Regions from separate parts of the Homo sapiens genome. Here region 2 is linked to region 1. The links come from fine-mapping of genetic effects on gene expression. A gene starts in region 1. The other region holds a variant in brackets. All regions are shown on one strand. Distances are from middle to middle.

Region 1 (10,937 bases):
TTCAACTATCAAATGAGCCTGTTTTCAAATTTTTATTATACCAGTTAGCAGTCCTGAGGTCTTTGGCAAGTTATTAAATTTCCTGAGCCTCAATTTTATCAACTGAAAATGGAGATAATAATAGGAACCACCTCACAATTGTTTTGGGGCCTAACTCACATAGTGTATATACATAGCCTGCCTGTAGACACATAACAAATTCTCAATACACATTAACTAGCATTCTTCTTAAAACTTCTTCCAGGTGGAAGTAGATGCCTTATCATTACAGTCTAATCTATAAGACACGTAAATGTCTTGCCGGACTTGCATATTCACAGAGCAACGTTGAAATTTTTAAATTGCCAAAAGCGTAGCTTTTATTTTTTTCATTTTTAATTGATGTATAAATAACACACATAAACTGCATGTATTCAAAATTTACAATTCAATTTTTTTGTATAAATATATAACTGTGAAACCATCACCATGATTGAGATGATGAACATGTTCACTGTCTCCAAAAGTTTCCTTTTGTGGCACCTCTCTGTCCCTCTCTGCAGCCCTGACACTAGCCCCTAGGCAACCACTGATCTTTCTGTCACTCTTGATTGGTTTCCATGTCCTAGAATTTTATGTAAATGAAGTCATACAGTTTGCACAGTTTTTGTTGTTCTGGCTTCATTCACACAGTCATGCATTCCTTTTAATTGCTGAGCAGTGTTCCATTGCATGGATGCGCTACAGTTTGTTTATAACCGCTGATGGACATTTGGGTTGTTCCTAGTTTTTTATTATTACAAACAAGGCTGCTATGAACATCCATGTATAAATCTTAGTGTCGTGTCTTAGTCTATGCTGCTGTTACAGAACACCTGAGAATGGGTAATTTATAAACAACAGAAATTCATTTCTCACAGTTCTCAAGGCTGAGAAGTCCAAGATAAAGACACCAGCATCTGGTGAAGGCTACTGTCTGTTTCCAAGCTGGAACCTTGAATGCTGTGTCTTCAGGAAGGGAGGAACGCTGTGTCCTCATGTGGAAGAAGGAGGAAGAGTAAAAAGAGGCTAACTTTCCTCTGTCAAGTCCTTTTGTAAGGGCATTAACCTATTCATGAGGCAGACCACTCATGAGCTAAACACCTCCCAAAAGACTCCCCCTCCCAACACTGTTGCATTGTAAATTAAGTTTCTGTGTTTCTTCTTTTTAGAGACAGTGTCTTACTCTGTCACCCAGGCTTGGGTGCAGTGGCACATTCATAGCTCACTGCAGCCTCCAACTCTGGTGCTCAAGTGATCCTTCCACCTTATCCTCCTGAGTAGCTGGGACCACAAGCATGTGTCATCATGCCCAGCTACTTTTAAAATTGTTTTGTAGAAGTAAGGTCCTGCCATGCTGCCCGGGCTGGTCTTGAACTCCTGGCCTCAAGTGATCCTCTCACCTCCATCTCTAACACATGAATTTAGGGGAATACATTTACACCATAGCATGTGGACATATGCTTTCATTTCTCTTGGGTAAATGCCTAGAAGTTAAATAGCTGGATCTTATGGTAAATATATGATTAACTTTTTAAGTAAGTACCAAAATGATACAACTACATTTTCCAAAGTGGTTGTATCATTAAAGTGGTTGTATCATTTTACACTTCCACTAGCAATGTTTGAGAGTTCCACTTGTTGCAGTATTTGGTATGGCTAGTCTTTTTAATTTTAGCCATTCTAATAGGCGTATAGTGGTTTCTCATTGTGCTTTTAATTTGCAGTTTTGTAATGACTAATGATGTTAATTAAGCATCTTTTCATATGTTTACTTCTTTCTTCTCTGAACTCTTAAGATAATTAATTGCCTCTAAGAATTCATTAGCTTCTCTAGGCTATCATAAGTAAATAAAGAATTAAATAGATTATAAATAGGTAGGAAGGTAGGTAGGTAGGTGGATGGATGGATAGCTATATTGATAGGTAGGTAGGTAGGTAGATAGCTACCTAGCTAAATAGCTACCTAGCTAAATAGATAGATAGATAGATAGATAGATAGATAGATAGATGATAGATAGATAGATAGATAGATAGATAGATAGATAGATAGATAGATAGGAATTTGAGTTCCTGTCATGTGCCAGACATGATTTTAGGCAATGAGAATAGAGTGCTGAATGAGACAAAAATTCTGCCCTTATGGAATTTCTATTCACATGACAGAGACAGGCAATAAACAATGTAATAAAATGTTAAATATATATAATTACTATGAAAAAACCCTGAATAGTACACGATGACAGATAGTGAAGGGATGAAGCAGGGATGGAGCAACATTTTAACATGATCTCAGACTGTTACATTTATTACCTGCACCTCCTGTGAGGCCCTGAAGAGCACTGTACAGCACTGTTCTGCAGTACTATGCATCATGGGTTATGCTCAGTGCAGATTTGTTCATTATTTCTAGTCCTCTGTCGCCTTCACAAGGGTGGGGTGTCTTAGTCCATTTGGCTTGCTATAACAAAATACCATAAACTAGGTGGCTTATAAACAACAGACATTTATTTCTGACAGTACTGGAGCCTAGGGAGTCCATGAACAAAGTGCCAACAGATTTGGTGTCTGCTGACGCCCACTTTTTGGTTAATAGGTGGTGTCTTCTAGCTGTGTCTTCATGTGGTGAAAGGACCAGCTAACATTTTGGGGTCTCTTCTATAATGATGTTAATCCCTCATGACCTAATCATCTCCCAGTGGTCCCACTTTCTAACACCATCATTTTGGGAGTTAGGTTTCAACATACGAATTTTGGGAAAACACAAACATTTGACCATAGCAGTGGGGCTCCTCCCATCTGTCTTGTTGCCTGGTGAATCTCTCACATGTGGCTCAGGGTCAAGAACATGGTAGGCATTTGTTTAATAGATATCAATTAGATAAATTAATGGAGGAAGGGAGGAGTGAATGGTTCACAGTAGGAATGTAATGTGCAGGGAGAACTCAGTACCAGAACTGAGGCAAGAATTCAGACTTACCAAGGCCTCTTCTGCCAGCTTCCTCTTCTTGGCAGAATGCCTGTGCCACAGCTCATCCAGACAGTTGTGTCCATTCCTTTTGGTCCAGATGAGATGCAGGTGCTCTCCTGAGTATCTTTGTCTCCACCATAGAATTATTTGATTCTAGGTAACATCAATGGCTCCAAACCCTCTCCTTGTGGCCTTACTATGTGGCATTTACCACACTCTGCATCATGAGTGATGTGGGAATTATGCTTCTTGAGATGAGAAAGAAGCCCAGATCATCAACTTTGTGACCCTCTCGGCCCCATTTCAGTATCAGATACGTAGAAGCTCAGTAAATATTTATTGTATTAAATTGAATCCTAAGTCCCTCTAAATGATTCAAGATGTCAGTGAAATACCCTTCACCATTCCAAAAGGCAGAACAAGAGGAAACATCCTATGTTCCTGAAGCACGACTGATTAGACTTAAGAAAATTTTTTATTTTGGTCCTCTAAGTTGTTTAAACAAACTCATTCATATAATTTATATTTGGCAATTTTTGAAAACAGGAGACATTTTCACTCTGAAATAATTTTGAAGTCTTCCAAAGAAGAGACAGAGGCATGGATGAGATGACCTTTAAAAGTTGTTTGCAATGTGTTCAAGACGTGTCACTTGTTTATCTGTAGGTGACATCCTCAATGAGCTCAAGTTCCAAGCCCATAGAGCTGCATGGGCCACCAGAGTCCTCCGAGGCCCCTGGCAAGCTGCAGATCCTGCCTTCCTGTCTCAAAGTTTACAGCCACTGCAAAGGTCAGGAATTGTGGTCCTCACATGTAAAAGATGAGACAGCCAGGGAGCAGGCAAGTTTGCAACCCAGAGCTCTCTTGAGGAACACGGAGCAAAGCCACCAGCCAAGGCATGTTGTTTCCGTCATAATGTGTGCTGCACAGTGTGGAAGAGTTTTATGGTGGCCCTGGCCTAGAGCTGTAAAGTTTATTTCTGCACATTAGCTAGTCCATTGTCCCCTGCCCCCAATATCTCTTTCATCTTCTTTAGGTAGACTTGTCAGGATCCTCTTTTAAACACAAGCCAACTCGGGTGGGACAGAGTTTGTATATCAGCACCTTAATAAATGATCTTCTTTTAAATACAAACCAACTGGGGCAGGGCTGCTTGTATATCAGAACCTTAAAGAAGGCACTAATGTGGCACCCATGGCATCCTAGCCTGTCTTCCTCATTATATGCTGTACTATGAGAATCTAAATAATCTCAGTCTCTCCTGCCTGTGCACTGACTCTGAGGATGCAGTGAACTAACAATAGGTAGAATCATTGCAGACAAAAAGTAGCATCTTTGCATTGCATGGTGTGTTTGGGGAAAATGAAGAATTGTATCTGTGTTCACATTTTTACTTCTACAAAAAGCTGTGTTTCTCCCCAGGCCATGATCCCTGAATCCAAAGAAAAATATTTTAATGCAATTGGGAAGTAAGGAGGAGAGAAGAAAAAATGTGGTGCAATATTCTCATCCAGAAGATGGGGATAAAATATCATCATCTTTATGGGTATTTTGATGATTAAATTGTAAGATCCACATAAAGAGCTCAACACAGAAACTGGTACCTGGAAAGTGATCAATAAATGTTACATAGAATTATTATCTGCTATAACTGTTATGCCCAACTTTCTGGGAAGTTCACTGGACATGGAGGGAGGGAGAGGGAGATGAAAGGGTAGGAATAAAAATAATACAAGTGAGAACACATTTCTTGCTGAGAGGCAAGGTAATGTAGCAGAGAAAGTGCTAATGTTGAGTGCTAGACGAGCCTGATATGTTGTGGGAATGAAAGGCAGGTTAAGAGGGAACACTCAATACATGTTGGTTCATTTTTCTTACTTCTATCTTTCACTTAACTGATTTGTTCTCAATAGGAAATACTTTTTGTCTGAAATTACTTCACAATTCTTCCATAACTAGGTTCAAATCCACAACTATTGATTTCTTCTCTCTCTTAAGAGACAGGGCCTCATTCTTTCTCCCAGGTTGGAATGTAGTGGCACAACCCTAGCCTTGAACTCTTCGGCTCAAGTGATCCTCTCAACTCAGCCTCTCAAGTATCTGGGACTAAAGGTACATGCCCACTAGGCTGAGCTAATTTTTTAAATTCTGTTTTTATTTATTTATTTCCACTTTATTCTCCACTTGAGGAGAGGAGAGGGAAAAGGAGAGAGTAGAGATGGATGCTTACTTTGTTGCCCAGGCTGATCTCGAACTCCTGGCCTCAAGTGATCCTCCCGCCTCAGCCTCCCAAATAGATGGGATTACAGACATGAGCCACTGCCCCTGGCCCCTGATTCTCTTTTAATTAGGACAATCCTGGTTTCCAATGCCAGTTGTCCTGTTTACTAAGCATATGGTCTTGCGTATGTGACTTAACCACACAGGGGCTAAATACCTGATACATAAAATAGAGATGCTAACCCCTATACCAGAGGGTTATTAGGATGATCATATAAGATAACACATGGAGCGGGCTTATCATACAGTGGTACTCAATAAATGGTATCATTGGTAGATTTCCCTAAGCATAGCTGGGTTGCAGGAGTGACTGCTAAAACAATTACCTTGGCTAGCATTTATGGGATTTTTACTAGCAAAGAGGAAAAATAATTTGCTTCATCTAAAATCTTGACAAGTGAGCTATAAATGAAAGAAGATGTGTACACCCTAGAGAGGGAAGGCATTCAGCTTCTCTGTGGTCCTACAGAGGTTTGTCTCCATTCCTGAAAATCTTTTTCATTGCCTCTTTTGACATTCCTACCAACTGACTGTATAATACTACAGTTTCTCTCTGGCTTGCTTGTTGCTTCCTATTGAACTCTCTGGGGAATATCATGCCCCACATGCAGATATGTTGTACTCACTCTGGGTCATTAAGTCCTTCCCTCATCAATACCAATGGTGCACAGAAGCAGCTCATGGCAGGTGTTTACTTCTTCTGAGATGTGTTAACCTCAGGTCTTGTTGGACTGGTATTTACCGCAATGGCTCTATTTTGTAGATTAAAAAACCTGAAGCTCATGGGTTAGAAATGAGTAGGTCAAAGCTCTAATGAGGAAATAACATAGAAAGACAATGAATTTCAGGTTGTTCTCAAGCTGCAGTGGATTTTGTTGAGTTTTTTTTCAAGTTATAAAAGCAGTTTGTGTTTATTACTCTAAGACAAACAAAACAGTTCTTATAGGAGCTGGAAAGCAGGTGCCAACCACCAGACCCATAGTACCTGCCTTACTTGGAAGACTAATTACTATTGCAAAAACTACTCTTTATTGTGCTCTAGCTGAATAGAAGGGTTTAACATCTTAATCTCTTAGAATTAAAATCTGCATGATATTCTGGCCCTCATCAACCCGCAGCAAGAAGGCTCGTTAAAACCTGGGCAGAATAGGAGGTGAAGCAAGATGGTGTTAGAGAAGGCTTCACTGATCATTCCCCCAGACAAGGACACCAAGTTAACAGCTATCTACACAGAAAAAAAACACCTTCATAAGAACCAATAAACAGGCGAGCACTCATAGTACCTGGTTTTAACTTCTTAGTGCTGAAAAAGGTAGAAAGGTAGAAAGTGCTGAAAAAGGCACTGAAGAGGTAGAAAGAAACAGTCCTGAGTTGCTGACGCCACCCCTCTCCCACCCCTGGCAGCAGTGGCCTGGTGCAGAGAGCCTCTTTGGGTGCTGGGGCAGGGAGAACCCAGCAATTCTGAGGCATTGAACTCAGTGTTGTCCTGTTAGAGCAGAAAGGAGAACTGGGTCAAACTCAGCTGATGTCTGCCCACAGAGGGTGCATTTAAACCAGCCCTAAACAGAAGCCAGTCATGGATCCCAGCAGTCAGAACTTGTGCCTGCAAATCTCACCACAGAGGGCTACAGTGCTCTGTGACTCCAAGTAAACTTGAAAGGCAGTCTAAACCATAAGGACTGCAATTCTTAGACTAGTCCTAGTGTTGAATTAGGCCCAGAAGCAGTGGACTGGGGTGGGCGTGGTGGGGAGGTGGCGTGGATGCAACCTACTAAGGCACCAGCTGGGGCAGCCAAGGGAGTGCTGGCATCACCCTTCCCCTAACCCCAGGCTCCACAGTTCGTGGCTCCAAAAGAGACCCCCTTCTTCCACTTGAGGAGAGGAGAGGGAAAAGTGGATAGGACTTTGTCTTGCATCTTGGATACCAGCTCATCCACAACAGGATTGGACACCAGTCAAAGTTGTGAGGCCCCCATTCCAGGCCCTAGCTCCTAGACAACATTTCTTAACACACCCTGGGCCAGAAGGGAACCCACTCCCTTGAAAGAAAGGACCAAGTCCTGGGAGCATGCATCACCTGCTAACTGAAGAGCCCTAGGGCCCTAAATAACGAGCAGCAATACCCAGGTACTACATCAAGGGCCTTGGGTCAGCCTCTGAGACTTGCTGGCTTCAAGTGAAACTCAGCCCATTCCCAGCTGTAATGACTATGGGGCAAAACTCCTCCTGCTTGAGAAAAGCAGAGGCAGAAGTAAAGGGGACTTTGTCCTGCACCTTAGATACCAGCACAGCCACAGAGGGGCAAAGCATCAAACAGGCTCTTGGGATTCCTGATTCTAAGACTTGACTCTTGGACAGCATTTCTGGACCTGACTGAAGCCAGCAGGGAGCCCACTGTCCTAGAGGGTGAGTTCCAGGCCAGGCAGCATTCACCATGAGCTGACTGAAGTGCCCCTGGACCTTAAGGAAACATGGGTGGTAGTCCAGCAGTACTCCTTGTGGCCTGGGGTGGTGGTGGCTACAGGGAGAGGCTCCTTTGCCCTTAGAAAGGGGAGGGAAGAGTGGGAAGGACTGTGTCTTATGGTTTGAGTGCCAGCACAGCTGTAATACAGTAACACCAGATAGACCTCTAAGGTCTTTGACTCTAGTCCCTGACTCTTGGATAGCACCTCTGGACCCACCTGGGGCCTGGGGGACCTCACTATCCTGAAAAGAAGAATACAGGCCTGGTTGGCTTTACCACCTGATGATCGCAGAGCCCCAGGGCCTTTAGAGAACATAGGCAGTAGCCAGGGAATGGTTACAGCAGGCCTTGGGCGAGCCCCAGAGCTGTGTTGGATTCAGGTCTGACCCAGCCCAGTTGTATTGCTGGTGGTGCTTGTGTCACTCCACCCCCAGCTTTATGTGGCTCAGAACAGAGAGAACGATTTCATTTGTTTGGGAGAAAGTAAGGAAAGAGAACAAGAGTCTCTGCCCGGTAATCCAGAGAATTCTCCCAGATCTTGTCCAAGACCATCAAGTCAGTACCTCTATGAGTCTGCAAGAATCACAGCATTATTGGGCCTGGGGTGTCTCCTAAAGCAGATACAGCTTAGATCACAACACCCAAGTCTTTTCAAATATCTGGAAAGCCTTCCCAATAAGGATGGCTACAAATAAGCCCAGACAGTGAAGACTACAATAAACACCTAACTCTTCAATGCCCAGACACCAAAGAACATCTACTAGCGTCAACACCGTCCAGGAAAACATGACCTTACCAAATGAACTAAATAAGGCACCAGGGACCAATACTGGAGAAACAGAGATATGTGACCTTTCAAATAGAGAATTCAAAATAGCTGCATTGAAGTAACTCAAAGAAACTCAAGATCACACAGAGAAGGAGTTCAGAATTCTATCACATAAATGTAACAAAGAGATTGAAATAATTAAAGAATCAAGCAGAAATTCTGGAACTGAAAAATTCAGTTGGCATACTGAAGAATGCATCAGATTTTCCTTTAATAGCAGAATTTATCAAGCAGAAGAAAGAATTAGAGAGCGTGAAAACAGCCTATTTGAAAATACAGAGTAAGAGGAGACAAAATTAAAAAAATAAAAAACAATGCAGCTTGCCTACAGGATCTAGAAAATAATCTCAAGGGCAAATCTAAGACTTTTTGGTCTTAAAGAAGTGGTTGAGAAAGAGATATGGGTAGAATGTTTTTTCAAAGGAACAAGACCAGAGAACTTCCCAAACCTAGAGAAAGATATCAATATGCTAGTACAAGAAGGTTATAGAACACCAAGCAGATTTAACCCAAAAAAGTCTACCTCAAGGCATTTAATAATCAAACTCCCAAAAGTCAAGGATAAATAAAGGATCCTAAGAGCAGCCAGAGAAAAGAAACAAATAACATAAAATGGAGGTCCAATATGTCTGGCAGCAAACTTCAGGGGAAACTTTACAAACCAGGAGAGAGTGGCATGACATATTTAAAGTGCTGAAGGAAAACAAAAACAAAAACAAAAACAAAAATATTTCACCCTAGAATAGTATATCAGGCAGAAATAGCCTTCAAACATGAAGGAGAAATAAGTATTTTCTCAGACAAACAAGACCTGAGGGATTCCATGAATACCAGACCTTTCCTACCAGACGTGCTAAAGGGAGTAGTTCCATCAGAAAGAAAAAGACATTAATGAGCAATAAATAATCACCTGAAGGTACAAAACTCACTGGTAATAGTAAGTAAATGGAAAAACAAAGAATATCATAACACTGTAACCGTGGTGTGTAAACTACTTTCATCCTAAGTAAAAAGACTCAAAAATAACCAATAAATTATAATAACTAAAATAACTTTTCAAGACATCATCAGTACAATAAGATATAAATGGAAACAACCAAAAGTTAAAAAGTGAGGAGACAAAGTTAAAGCATAGAGTTTTATTAGTTTTCTTTTTGCTTGTTTGTTTGTTTATGCAAATAATGTTAAGTTGTTATTCGGTAAAATAATAGGTTATTTATAAGATAGCATTTTCAAGCCTCATGGTAACTTCAGACCAAAAAACATACAATGGACTCACAAAAAATAAAAAGCCGGGAACTACTTTATATGATCAGAGAAAATCACCTCTGCTAGAGGAAGATAGAAAGGAAAGAAAGAAGAAAGAGAAGACCAAAAAACAACCAGAAATCAAATAACAAAATGGCAGGAGTATGTCCTTACTTACCAGTAATAACATTGAATGTAAATAGACTAAACTCTCCCATCAAAAGACATAGACCGGCTGAATAGATTTAAAAAAAAAAACAAGACCCATTGATATGTTGCCTACAAGAAACACAGCCTACAAATACACACAAAGGCTTAAAACAAAGCAATAGAAAAAGAAACCCCATGCCAATGGAAACCAAAAAAGAGCAGAAGTCACTATATTATATCAGACAAAATAGATTTCAAGAAAAAACTATAAGAAGAGACAAATAAGGTCACTATATAATGATAAAGGGGTAAATTCAGCAAGAAGATATAACAATTTTAAATATATATGCACCCAACAGTGGATCACCCAGATATATAAAGGAAACATTATTAGAGCTAAAGAGAGAGCTAGGCCCAAATACAATAATAGCTGAAGGTTTCAACACTCCACTTTCTGCATTGGACAGATCTTCCAGACAGAAAATCAACAAGAAATATCAGACTTATTCTGCACTATAGACCAAATGTATCTAATAGATACTTACAGAACATTTCATCCAACAGCTGCAGAATACATATACTTTTCCTCAGCATATGGAACATTATCAAAGATAAGCCATATATTAGGTCACAAAACAAGTTTTAAAACATTCAGATGATTAGGGCATCTTCTCTGACCACATGGAATAAAAGTAGAAATTAGTAATGAGAGGAGTTTTGGAAACTATAAAAATACATGAAAATTAAACAATATGTTCCTAAATAACCAGTGAATCAATGAAGAAATTAGGAAGAAAATTGAAAAATTTCTTGAAACAAATTATAATGGAAACACAACATACCAAAACCAATGGGATACAGCAAACTAAGAGGGAAGTTTATAGCTATAAGTACCTATATCAACAAAAAGGAAACACTTCAAATGAACAATATAACAATACATCTTAAAGAACTAGAAAAGCAAAAGCAAACCTAAC
Region 2 (10,937 bases), 170 kb after region 1:
CAGGACAGAGCACCAAATTGCTGGCAGAGGCCGGGCTCCAGTCAAGTGCTGGCATCTCATCCAAACAGGTTGAAATTAGGTTTCAAAACTACCTGTGAGAAAGAAAGATGAGGTGGAAAGTCGCTGATGTGAGCAAAAATACTGCAGTAATAGCTGGTTGGGGAAGAGAGCGGGGGGGAACTGAGCTGCAAAAACACTTAAAACATGCTACTCTGAAAGCCTGTGGCTCCCTTGTCTCCCCCAACTCTCTCTTTTATTAACTTAGCTTCTTTTATGAGTACTTTAATAAAACGAACTCTTTTTTACCCTGTGCAAGGAAGATCCATAAATGCTCCTACGTTGAAAACAAAAACAAAAAGCAAAAAACTTACATTTCCCAGGATATCCGAAAGAAAGGAATGGGTAGGGGAGGGAAGAGCAATAAATGGTTACACTAAAGGCTCCTGTTATATGGAGTCATACATAAGGTGGGCACGAGGATGCCTTCTGAAAATCCAGCTGACGCCATGTGAAGGAAGGCATACTTTTTCAAGACTTGGGAGGAAGATAATCCTTTATGACTCCTCATTTAACTTCTTTATATCTAGTGATTTATCATCTAATCCCTGAGCTTTACTTGGGGTCACAAGAGTCCTCTTTTACTCTGTGTGTACAGTGAGGGCTGAAGGGTGAAAGGGAGCCTCATCTACAAGCCCAGGACATGTTCTGAACCGACTGGCCACCCGGAGGCCTTAAGACCCCTTGGGAGAGCAAGGAAAGATTTTTTTCTCTCTGACATCCCACATTGAATCCACCTGCAAATCCTGTTGGTTCTACTTTCAAGATACATTCAATCCACTTTTGGCATCTCCTCTGTTATCACCTTGTATATGGTCCAAACTGCCCTCATCTGTCACCTATATTACTACAATAACTTCTACCTGGTCTCCTTGCTCCCACCTTTGTCCCCACTTGTTCTGCATAAGACAGCCTAAGGTAGTGGGAGAGGTCCTCCACTCCACGCCACCACACCCGGCCTCCTTGTTTTCTTGATTATCCTGTTTAAACTTGCAATGACCCCCCACTGCCTTCACTATCCACATTCCCTACTTTATGTTTCTCTATAGCACTTATCATGGTCCCATACACTATATATTTTACTCATTCTATATCTGCCAACCTGTATGTTCCATCAGGGCAGGAGTTTTGTTTCTTTCATGCCTGCATCCTCAGTGTCTAAAACACTGCCTGGTACATAATAGGTGTTCAATAAATATTTGTTGAATGAATATTATGCTCATTCTGAGGCCAAAATTCTTTAAAATTGGGGATAAAGGCTGTGTCAGCATTGGAGCTGTTGTGCCAAACCCCTATTAACCTCAATAGGGAAGGTGTTAGGGTCAAGAGGCCAAAGAAAAGAACCAGGAACAGCAAGCAAGACATGAGGTTTTATTAATGGATTACATAGACAGGAGAGATTCCAGTGGTGGTGAGTTGGACAAGAGATTTGCCTTACATACAGAGACAGATCAGTGGCAGCAGCTGGACAAAATGTCTGCCTTACCGCCTTACCTACAGTCAACAAAGCCCAGTGGTGGTGGGCTAGGCAGGAAAACCCCAACCATTTGCAAAGAGCATGCAGTTTATATAGCATTTCACTTAATATCCTGCCCTTAACAACCTCCACCTGGCAATCTTCATCCAACCCAAAACTCAGGGCTTCAATCCTCTATACAGCCCATGTTCCACAGGATGGGCTGGGGTGTGTACGTAGGGATGGGGCTCAGATGTTCCTCATTGACAAGGAATGAATCTCCAGGTTGGCCACGCCCAAATTCCCTAGCTTGGAACACGAATTCAGGTGTATCTGCTATATAGGCTATGCTTAAATTATTGCTGTCAGGTGCATCTACTGTACGGGGCGCAACTTCCCAGTGGGCCACAGGACACGGCTCCTCCAGGGATGTGGGTGTGTAATGGTCAGAGCAGGATAGATTTGGAGAGCAAAGTCAGGAATGCCAGTCAACCGCAGGCCTAGACATTGAAAAACTGGTCTCTAAGTTTGAAAGGAGAATATATATATATATATATATATATATATATATATAAAACTATCAACCACAGCACAGTCATTGATGCTTACTTAGTGAGAGGGCAGCTCTCAGTGGTTAGGAAGAACCCCCCTCTCCTCCCCCTTAACCAGGTGGCCTCATTCTGGAACAAAAGGCATCCAAACATAAAGAAACAGCACTGCCACTCTGCCTTCTCAGCTCTTATCTTTACTGCTCTGTTCTTGTCATCATATTGGTCCTTAGAGTAGGCCACGCCAAGTGCAATCAGGGTGGAATTAGTTGCTACAGGATATCTGTAGCAACTTCACAGAAGTTCCTCAGAAGGAGATTTCATGGCACAAATTCCCAGTGGCTGAAGTGGAAGAGCTCAGCAGTCAAGGGCTTTGTATTAATTACCCTGCCCTGGCTTCCTTCCCTTAATGCTCAGGTGGCCTGGTTAAAATGAATCCCATCCTCATTCTTCCATTTAAGCCCAATGATAGTCATAGTTCTAGCAAGGAGGGTGCAGTAGGGACGTCCACACCCTGAACCTGCCCTGGATTAGGACAATACACTGGCTCCTCTCTGCTATTCTTAGAATTGGAATCAAAGTGTGGAATTGTCCACTCTCTTTCCATGTCAACACAAGACCTCAATCTCTGATCCAGCCTGACTTTCAGAAGTCCACAGTAGACACAGGAGTGATATGGAACTGACCCTTCAGGGCAGGGTTTAAAACTAAGTGTTATCTCAAAAACAGTGTCCAGGGTTAGGTATGGCAACCGAAGAGAAGCTCCAGCTGTAAATGGTCTGGAGGTGACAACTGGGTAAAAGAAATCCCATAGCAAACAGCAAGCAGGTTTCGAAGGGAGGGAAGGCAGAAACCTAGACCCTGGGTTTTAGAGGCCTCTGCATCCCTCTGTTTTGGAGAGTTGGGGTTCAGGACCTGTTAAAGCAACTTAGAGTCTTCAGACAGGAATAGACAACTCTTGGTTAAGTTCAGGACAGATTCAATGGGAGAGATAGAATTTTCATTACTTTAAAAACAGGCAAAAGAGTAAGTGTCTGTAAATCTAACTCAGCCAGAATCTATCTCAATATCCTTTTTTATTTTTTAAAGGTAGACAAATTTATTATATTTGGAGCATAACCAACTTGTTTCTTATTCTTAGCTCTGCCTCCCTGCCAGGCCAGACATACTCACGGACACCAAAGCCATGGGCACCAGCCCTGATTGTAGTGGATATGAGTTATGAGTTAGAATGAATGCATTTGGAGACTGGAGCTAACAGAATTTGTAAACTATGCAAATCATTTCTTATCCTTCTTACTTTAAAAAAGGACTATTCTGCTACTCTCAGCAGATTTCAGCCTATTCACTGAGTACTTCAGAGTTTACAAAATACTCTCATATACATCATCTCATCTTGTCCCTGTCCCTGCAGGAAGCAATGGGGTGAAAAAAAAGGGGGGGATTACTTCAGATCAGTCTCAAAACATCAAAACATGACTTAGCTGGTCCTAGTCCCACTCTGTCATGGTTTGGTTTTTAGCTCAAATAAACACATTCACTGATTTACAAAACTAGGTAATAAAACATTCATCCCTACCTTCTTTTTTTTTTTTTTGAGACAGTCTTGCTCGGTCGCCCAGGCTGAAGTGCAGTGGTGTGATCTCAGCTCACCGCAACTTCTACCCCTCAGGTTCAAGCGAAACTCCTGCCTTAGCCTCCTGAGTAGCTGGGATTACAGGCACCTGCCACCACACCCAGCTTTTTTTTTTTTTTTTGTATTTTTAGTAGAGACAGGGTTTTGCCATGTTGGCTGGGCTGGTCTCTAACTCCTGACCTCAGGTGATCCACCTTATTGGCTTCCCAAAGTGCCGGGATTACAGGCATGAGCCACCGCACCTGGCTGATTCATCCCAGCCTTCTGACCATAGGATAGAACTCTTTCTTAACTAGCGGATTCCTGGGGGCAGGAGGTGGGAAGAGAGTGTGACAAGTACAGCCTGTTCTCTCCTGAAAACTCAATTTGTCTTCTTTTCCCCTCCCTGTGAACTCTTAGTTGATACTGAGCCCGTACTGGTATATTCTTATCTTTCCCTTTTACGCATCAGATAGAAGCTAATGAAGGGTTCTTCTGATTGAATTTTGTGCTTATAGTTCCCCAGGTGAGATTATAAGAAAGGAAAAATATGGGGAGGTTGAACTAATACAACCTCAGGTGCATGTAGCACAATTTGATGGGATCTTAAAGGCCTTTCAGACTTTTAGTCTACAATCCCAAAGTGGTCTCTCTAATTCCTACCCCCTCCTTCTTTCTTGCCCCACACCAAGACTTCCTATAACCCTCCCCACTCACTGCCACACCTAACAGGAGGAAGTGACTCAAATCTCCCCAGGACCCCCAGCTTGTAGGCACCGATGTGGCATCTCCTTTCCTAAGGTCCTCTCCAGGTTTATCGGGCAGACACAGGCTTCCTAACAGCTCTAGCCACCACACAGTCGCCTCAGCACTCCACCTTTCCTGCACCAGTGACCGTTGTCAAGGTCCTCAGCGCAGAAATCAACTAGGAAGGCTGCCTCTCTGTGAGGTGCGGGCACACATGGTGGAACACCAGCATCTGTGCCAGAGCCTGTCTCCCCGGAGGGAGGTTAAGGTCTGCAGCAGTCAGGAGTCTGCCTCCCATTTACTGCCATTCTTTCTTAGCTGAAGGTGCTGAGTGCTTCTTGTCCTTCCCATGATTCTCAGAGCCCCTTTTAAATCATCTCTCTGAACTCGAGCATAGTCCATGGGACTGGGTGGAGGAAAAACACTACACACCACTACTAGATTGCCCATGTCCCTTAACTCCAACCCCTGGTTCTAAAACAGCTTTCTTCTTACTGGCCTCCTCCTTTCTCATCAAATCACTCATAGAAACAGCTGCCTGAGGAGCTGCCAGCTCCACACACCCATCAGGGTGACAGCTTGCTGCCAGGCATTCTCAGAGGTTCCAGCAGTGGCTCACACCCTTCAAACTGCAAAGTGTTCTTTCCTCTCTCAGATGATCGACAGGTCTGATAAACACTTGGTTCAGTTAGGTGACTGAAAAAGAGGGCTCCAGATGAGCAGAACCTCCTCACCCCTATACCTCACCGATGGGTCATAAAGCAATGGACTTTCAGATATTAGCAACAGATCTC[G/A]CTCACCTGTGGTTTTCAGAGCTTTGGTTAATAACCTGAGTTACCCTGGCCTCCAGGCTTGTCTCTTTCCCCAAGAATCGACCCAGGGCTACTTAAGGCAGAGAGATCCATTTCCTGGAATGAGCTGCTCTGAACCAAGACAAGTTCATGGTCTCTGAGTCCTCATTTGTGGCCTGCTGTCTTGATAACAGCTCTCTTGTCAGTCCTCCATAAGCTCTGGTCCAGCCTCCCCGTTGCAGGACATTTTTTCATCTTCAGAAGATTCTGAGACTTTAGGAATGAATCATTGCTGGTATGCAAAGTTACATAAGAAAAGCTAGGGACAAACTAGGCAAGTAAAGAATTCTAGTTTTTCCAAAATGGAAATTTTAGAAAAATATAAAAAATAATCTTATCAAAGCATGTGCTTCCTCTGGCAAAGCATACCTCTCCTATCCACAAGGAGCCTTGGGTGCAGGGGAAGATGAAATAATGATATTGCTCATTAGAGACAAAGAGGAAACTAGATGGGTCTACAGGGAGGGCTCCTTCCTAGTGTTCCTTCAGAGAGGGATGCTTTCCTACTCTGTTGTGGCTTATCATGTAGATTCATTCTTGCATAGAAAGCAAATAAGAGAATTGAATGCCATCATTTCTGTGAGGAAGAAAAAAGAAATCAACATATCAACTGTTGTCCTATTTGCATCCCTTCCTTCTGCTTCCTTATAAAATTAGCAGCAAAATGACATTCCTTATTCCTCCATGCAAGTCGTACAACTGACAGCCTTAGCATCCCAAATAAAGCTCCTCTCCTTAAGTCCAATATTGAAGTCACTTAAGAACTCTCTGCCCTTGATTTTGATCCTTTCTCCTGTCAAAGTGAGGGTGACATTAACAAGTGTGCACAGGAGGGGGCTTTGTGCCAATTAACAGTTTCTCATTAGCTTAATTAGGGGACACATGTTTTTAATCACAGCTAAGAAAGTGGAATGATTGAAGAATTGATTCTGAGCTTTTGAAAGCATCCCTGTCAGTGCATGGAATTTAATTCTGCAGATGTTGCTTTAAAAGAGACAGTGGTAGAAAGAAATAGCTTTAAATGACATGGCCTCACTGAGCATAATAAGAGAATAGGAATCTGAACCAGATAAACAGAGTGTTTCCACTTCGGATCTAAGACAATCTTTTTCAGGCTATCTGCAGAATCGAGGGTCTTGCCCTCTTTGTTATATTATGTGAGATAGCCAAGTGGGACAATTTTCTTTTCTTTTCCACTAACCCTTTATCCCTAGATTCCGAGTAAACAGACCTGATGGTTGTAGAGATGTTCAGATAATGTGGATAGTTTAGATGCAGATTTCGGGGGGTTGCTGATGGTTGTTCTAGCTGAAACGGCTGTTAAATTTGGACTTCATGGAGTATTTGAGAAGTCTAAATTTGTGAGACCTGTTTACATCAGGAAATGGTTTGATTTATGGTCTTGCATGCTTGTAACCTGAAGCTGGGTAACTGTCACAGTCCGTATATAACCCAAAGGGCCACTCATTCAGATCATGCAAATCTAAAGGTGATTGTTAAGCACTAAAAATTACATTGATTTAAATGTCTATATTGTTTTGGGCTCTACACAATACAGCAAGGCCATGACCCATTCCATTTAAAACCTTAGTAGGCTAATGTTTCACTAATTATGAGATTTTAATACAGTATGCACACAGATTTGTTCTTTGTAGAATGCAATCTTTACTGATATATCCCTTTTGCAATTTATCTTTTATTTTTCTTGATTGCAAAAAGCAATAAACTTTAATTGCAAAAAACTGAAAAATACTGTAAAACACAAAGAAGAAAAAAGTAGTACATAATTCCACCTACGCAGATATAATCACTATTTATATTTTAATGTATAGGCTTTTTTACTATGTAAATTTCCTTTTTTTTTTTTTTTGAGAGAGAGGGTATGCACCGTGTTGCCCAGGCTGGAATACAGTGGCACCATCATGGCTCACTGCAGCCTCAACCTCCTGGGCTCAGGTGATCCTCCCACCTCAGCCTCCTGGGTAGCTGGGACTACAGGCATGTGCCACCACACCTGGCTAATTTTTTGTATTTTTTTGTAGAGACAGGGTTTCACCATGTTGCCGAGGCTGGCCTCAATCTCCTGAGCTCAAGAGATCTGTCTGCCTTGGCCCCAAAGTGCTAAGATTACAGGCATGAGCCACCAGGCCCGGCCACACTATGCATATTTTCTAATAAAATGGGATGATACTGTATTTCTGGTTTTACAACAGCTGTTTTACTTACTATATCATTATGACCTCCCCAGATCATTAAATATTCTTGTACAACATAATTGTTAATGACTGCGTAGTATTCTGGCTCATGAATTTGTCATATTTATTATAGAACATTACAAATATTCCCATTTTTGGTATTATAAGCAATGATGAAGTGGTCATGCTTGAATATAAATCTTTTCAAGCATCCTTGATCATCTCCTTTGAATAAATTTCTAGAGGTGAAATTGCAGAGTCAGAGATTATGTACATTTTTAAGACATTTAAACATATTGTCAAGTTTCTCTCCAGAAGTTATAATCTACCAGTTTATATTCCCATAACTAACAATATAGGATAGTGATCTTTTTTACTAAAGTAAAAACAATAAATAAGTATAATCTCTAAAAGTAAAGTAAAAAAATTATATCATTATTTTTATTACAATTTTGACTACCAGTGAAATCAGATATTATCTCTTATAAGTTATAAGTTATATTTCTTTTTGTGCATTGTCAAATCATGTATTTCTCTCATTTTGCTCCTGGGATATTCACCTTTTGTTTTTATTATTATTTTTATTTTACCTGGGTTCCAGAAAAGGAAGAATCACCTCTTTATTTTGGTTCATTTGTGAGAGTTGTCATATATGAAACCATTGTCACATGTATTTAAAAATATATCTTGTTCCTAGCTTGGTACTTGCTTTTTTTCCCCCTCTAATTATGCATTTTGTTGTTGTTGTTGTTGTTATTTATATAAAATGTTAATGTTAGGTAAGTTGAATCAGTTATTCTGTTATGGTTCTTTTTTACTAGAATGTTTGAAAAAAATTCCCCCTTCTGAGATTTTTATATTCACCAGTATTTTCTATTTTCATTTTTTACTTTTAAAAATTCATTTATAATTTAGTTTTATATACTGCATAGGTAGCTATTTTGTTTTTTCTTTGCAAACTGCCAACTGATCTAATATGTTTATGGAATTATTCAGCATTTCCCTAAATGTGTTCCATGGTACACTACTGCTTCAGGATTCTGAAAAATAAAATAAGTTCTGGCAGATATACATATGTTTGAGAAATGCTGGATAATCTAGTTCCTTATTAAGATTCACAGAGCATAGTTCCATTTTAAGGTTTCAAGAAGTCCTGCTGTACAGATACTTATTTTATCTTGCTTTACCTAGAATTACGATTTAACCATGTAGTTCTTTTTCAAACAGCATCTGTTAGCATAAAAAAAAAACTCCTAATATTCTGTAGACTAGCCAGTGAGTATCTAATTTGAAAGATCAAAAAAAAAAATGTTTACCAAACATTATTGTTGGAGTGTCTGAAAAGGCTCAATATGGATATAGTATCCTCTGGCCTACTTGGGTTCTGAATAAATTGAGAAATAAAAATCAGTAGGGCAGATGGGTCAAAATATCACGTTTGTTATTGTTAATAGAGGAGTTAGAAAATGTAGTTTAGTGGGAGAGCCAAGTAGACTCTGTGAACTGAACCCCTAAATTAATGTAGCTGCTCAGTCCCAGGCAGTTTCTCTCTCCAGGGCTGCCTTCTCAGGTAAGACTTACAGACTGGAGACTCAGAGGGAATCTCTGGCTTCCATACTTAGTACTCAAGAAAAAAAAAGGAGTGTGCTGGGTCTAGCAAGCTTGGTTTATTCTTTCCAAATGTGCTAATCAGCCAAGTTACTCCCTCCTCCCTTGGCTGAATGAATGAGAGGCCAAGAGTGGTTACAGACAATCTGTCCATAAAGAATCCCAGGAATGGAAAAATGACATTCCTCTCTCACATTGCTCAGGCTTATTTCTCTATTAGGTTTAATCATTAAGAGTAATGGGTGTGGCTATCTCCCCAGGGGAGAACTGCAATCTATCAAGAGAGTTCTATGTTTGCCTTCTTAAGGCTCCTTTCCCCAACACTGGTTGCTGCTCTTTTGGGTATCCTTTCTGAGGGGAGTTGGGAGTTTGCTTCCAGAAGACTCTAAGATGGATCAAAACAGCACATTAATCAAATCAATTTCAAGGCTCTCCTACTGGAGTTGAAAACTCCTTATTCTATTTCTCATCCTAAATTATGTCTACTTACATTGTCCAATATACAGTATCAGAGATTCTGCCATGAGATTAAATATGACATAAAAGATGCTCCAATAGTAAGACAAATAAAAGGCTTCAATAATAAAATACCAACAACATTGAGATGGCCCAAATTTGATTGTAAACTTTCACCAATGTTCAAATTTCCAAAGAGTTAGATTCCCTTGCAAATGAAAATCCAAAGATATTGAAGTCTAAAATAATCTTCCATTGATCTTTCTATTCCCATGTCATTATCATACTGCTTACGTATTAAATTTTATAATATATTTGGATATCAAATAGTGTAAACCTCCTTTACTCGTCTTCAAAAATAACTTAGCTTCTGGGAGGCCGAGGTGGGCAGATCACGAGGTCGGGAGATCCAGACCATCCTGGCTAACACAGTGAAACCCCGTCTCTACTAAAAATACAAAAAATTAGCCAGGCGTGGTGGCGGGCACCTGTAGTCCCAGCTACTCAGGAGGCTGAAGCAGGAGAATGGGTGTGAACCCGGGAGGCAGAGCTTGCAGTGAGCAGAGATCGTGCCACTGCACTCTAGCCTGGGCGAAAGTGTGAGACTCCGTCTAAAAAAATAAATAAATAAATAAAAATAAAAAAAATTACTCAGCTTCATTTCTATTGGCTCTTCTAGAATAACATTAGAATTATTTTACCTAGACAAAAAGTACACTTTTGATCAGAACTGTATTCATTTCATAAATTAATTTGGGAAGGATGGACAATATTAGATCTTTTTATACATAAACATGGATCAGCTCTCAGTGGAGAAATGTTCAACTACCATCAGATGATCTGGTACATCAATACAAACAAATGTGTTTATCACAATATATCATTCCCAGGGCTAGTTTTGTTTGGTTTTAAGGATGGGTTAAGAGGTATAAAAGGAAGGCAGTCAGTGGGGATTGGCAGCTAGTAAAAGTTAAGTTTGCAGCAATGTAGAACCAGGATAGCAATACTTAGGTAAAAAGGCCTTAGCAGCATTAGACAAAAAATCAAATCACAGAGGTGACTGAATGGTCTGTCCCAATTATAAGGTTTTTTTGTTTTGTTTTGTTTTGCCATTGATAACTAAATTTAATCCATTTACATACAAGAAATGAGCTACCTGCATGAAGTTAAAGCGGTGACATGGATGATGCATAATCTAGAACCCGACTAAAGCATCAATGTTCAGATTACAGAGAAAGACATGCTACAGGTTACCTGATCTGCTTTGCTGCATTGGTGGCTAGGTCTTCACAAACATCTGTTTGACAGATCTGTCAGTCAGATGTTGTGGGTATCTACAATATGGAGAGCTGGACTAGACAGCATCAAATGTGTTTCACTGTCTTTTGATGACACCAAATTAGA

Which allele goes with the higher level. Positions count from the first base shown, and alleles are read on the strand shown. Sizes are in standard deviations (SD) of each study's normalised expression.
As copies of G replace A in region 2, the expression in cerebral cortex of the gene that starts at base 4,364 in region 1 goes down (large effect, 1.8 SD a copy in GTEx).

Evidence for each region.
Region 2: its variant is fine-mapped to the expression of LINC01735 in cerebral cortex (GTEx, PIP above 0.99). The same link has a PIP of 0.9 or more in prefrontal cortex.

Annotation. Positions count from the first base shown.
Region 1 is chr1:208,609,759-208,620,695 of GRCh38, forward strand. It overlaps LINC01735 (long intergenic non-protein coding RNA 1735), which reads right to left and starts at 4,364. Exons shown (of 2, transcript XR_001738430.2): 1 at 2,332-4,364. RefSeq lists enhancers at 2,946-3,115, 3,016-3,185.
Region 2 is chr1:208,782,441-208,793,377 of GRCh38, forward strand. No RefSeq gene overlaps it. Among named protein-coding and RNA genes, the nearest start is that of LINC01717, 59 kb to the left of the region's middle. The variant G/A (reference allele first, on the strand shown) is at 5,218.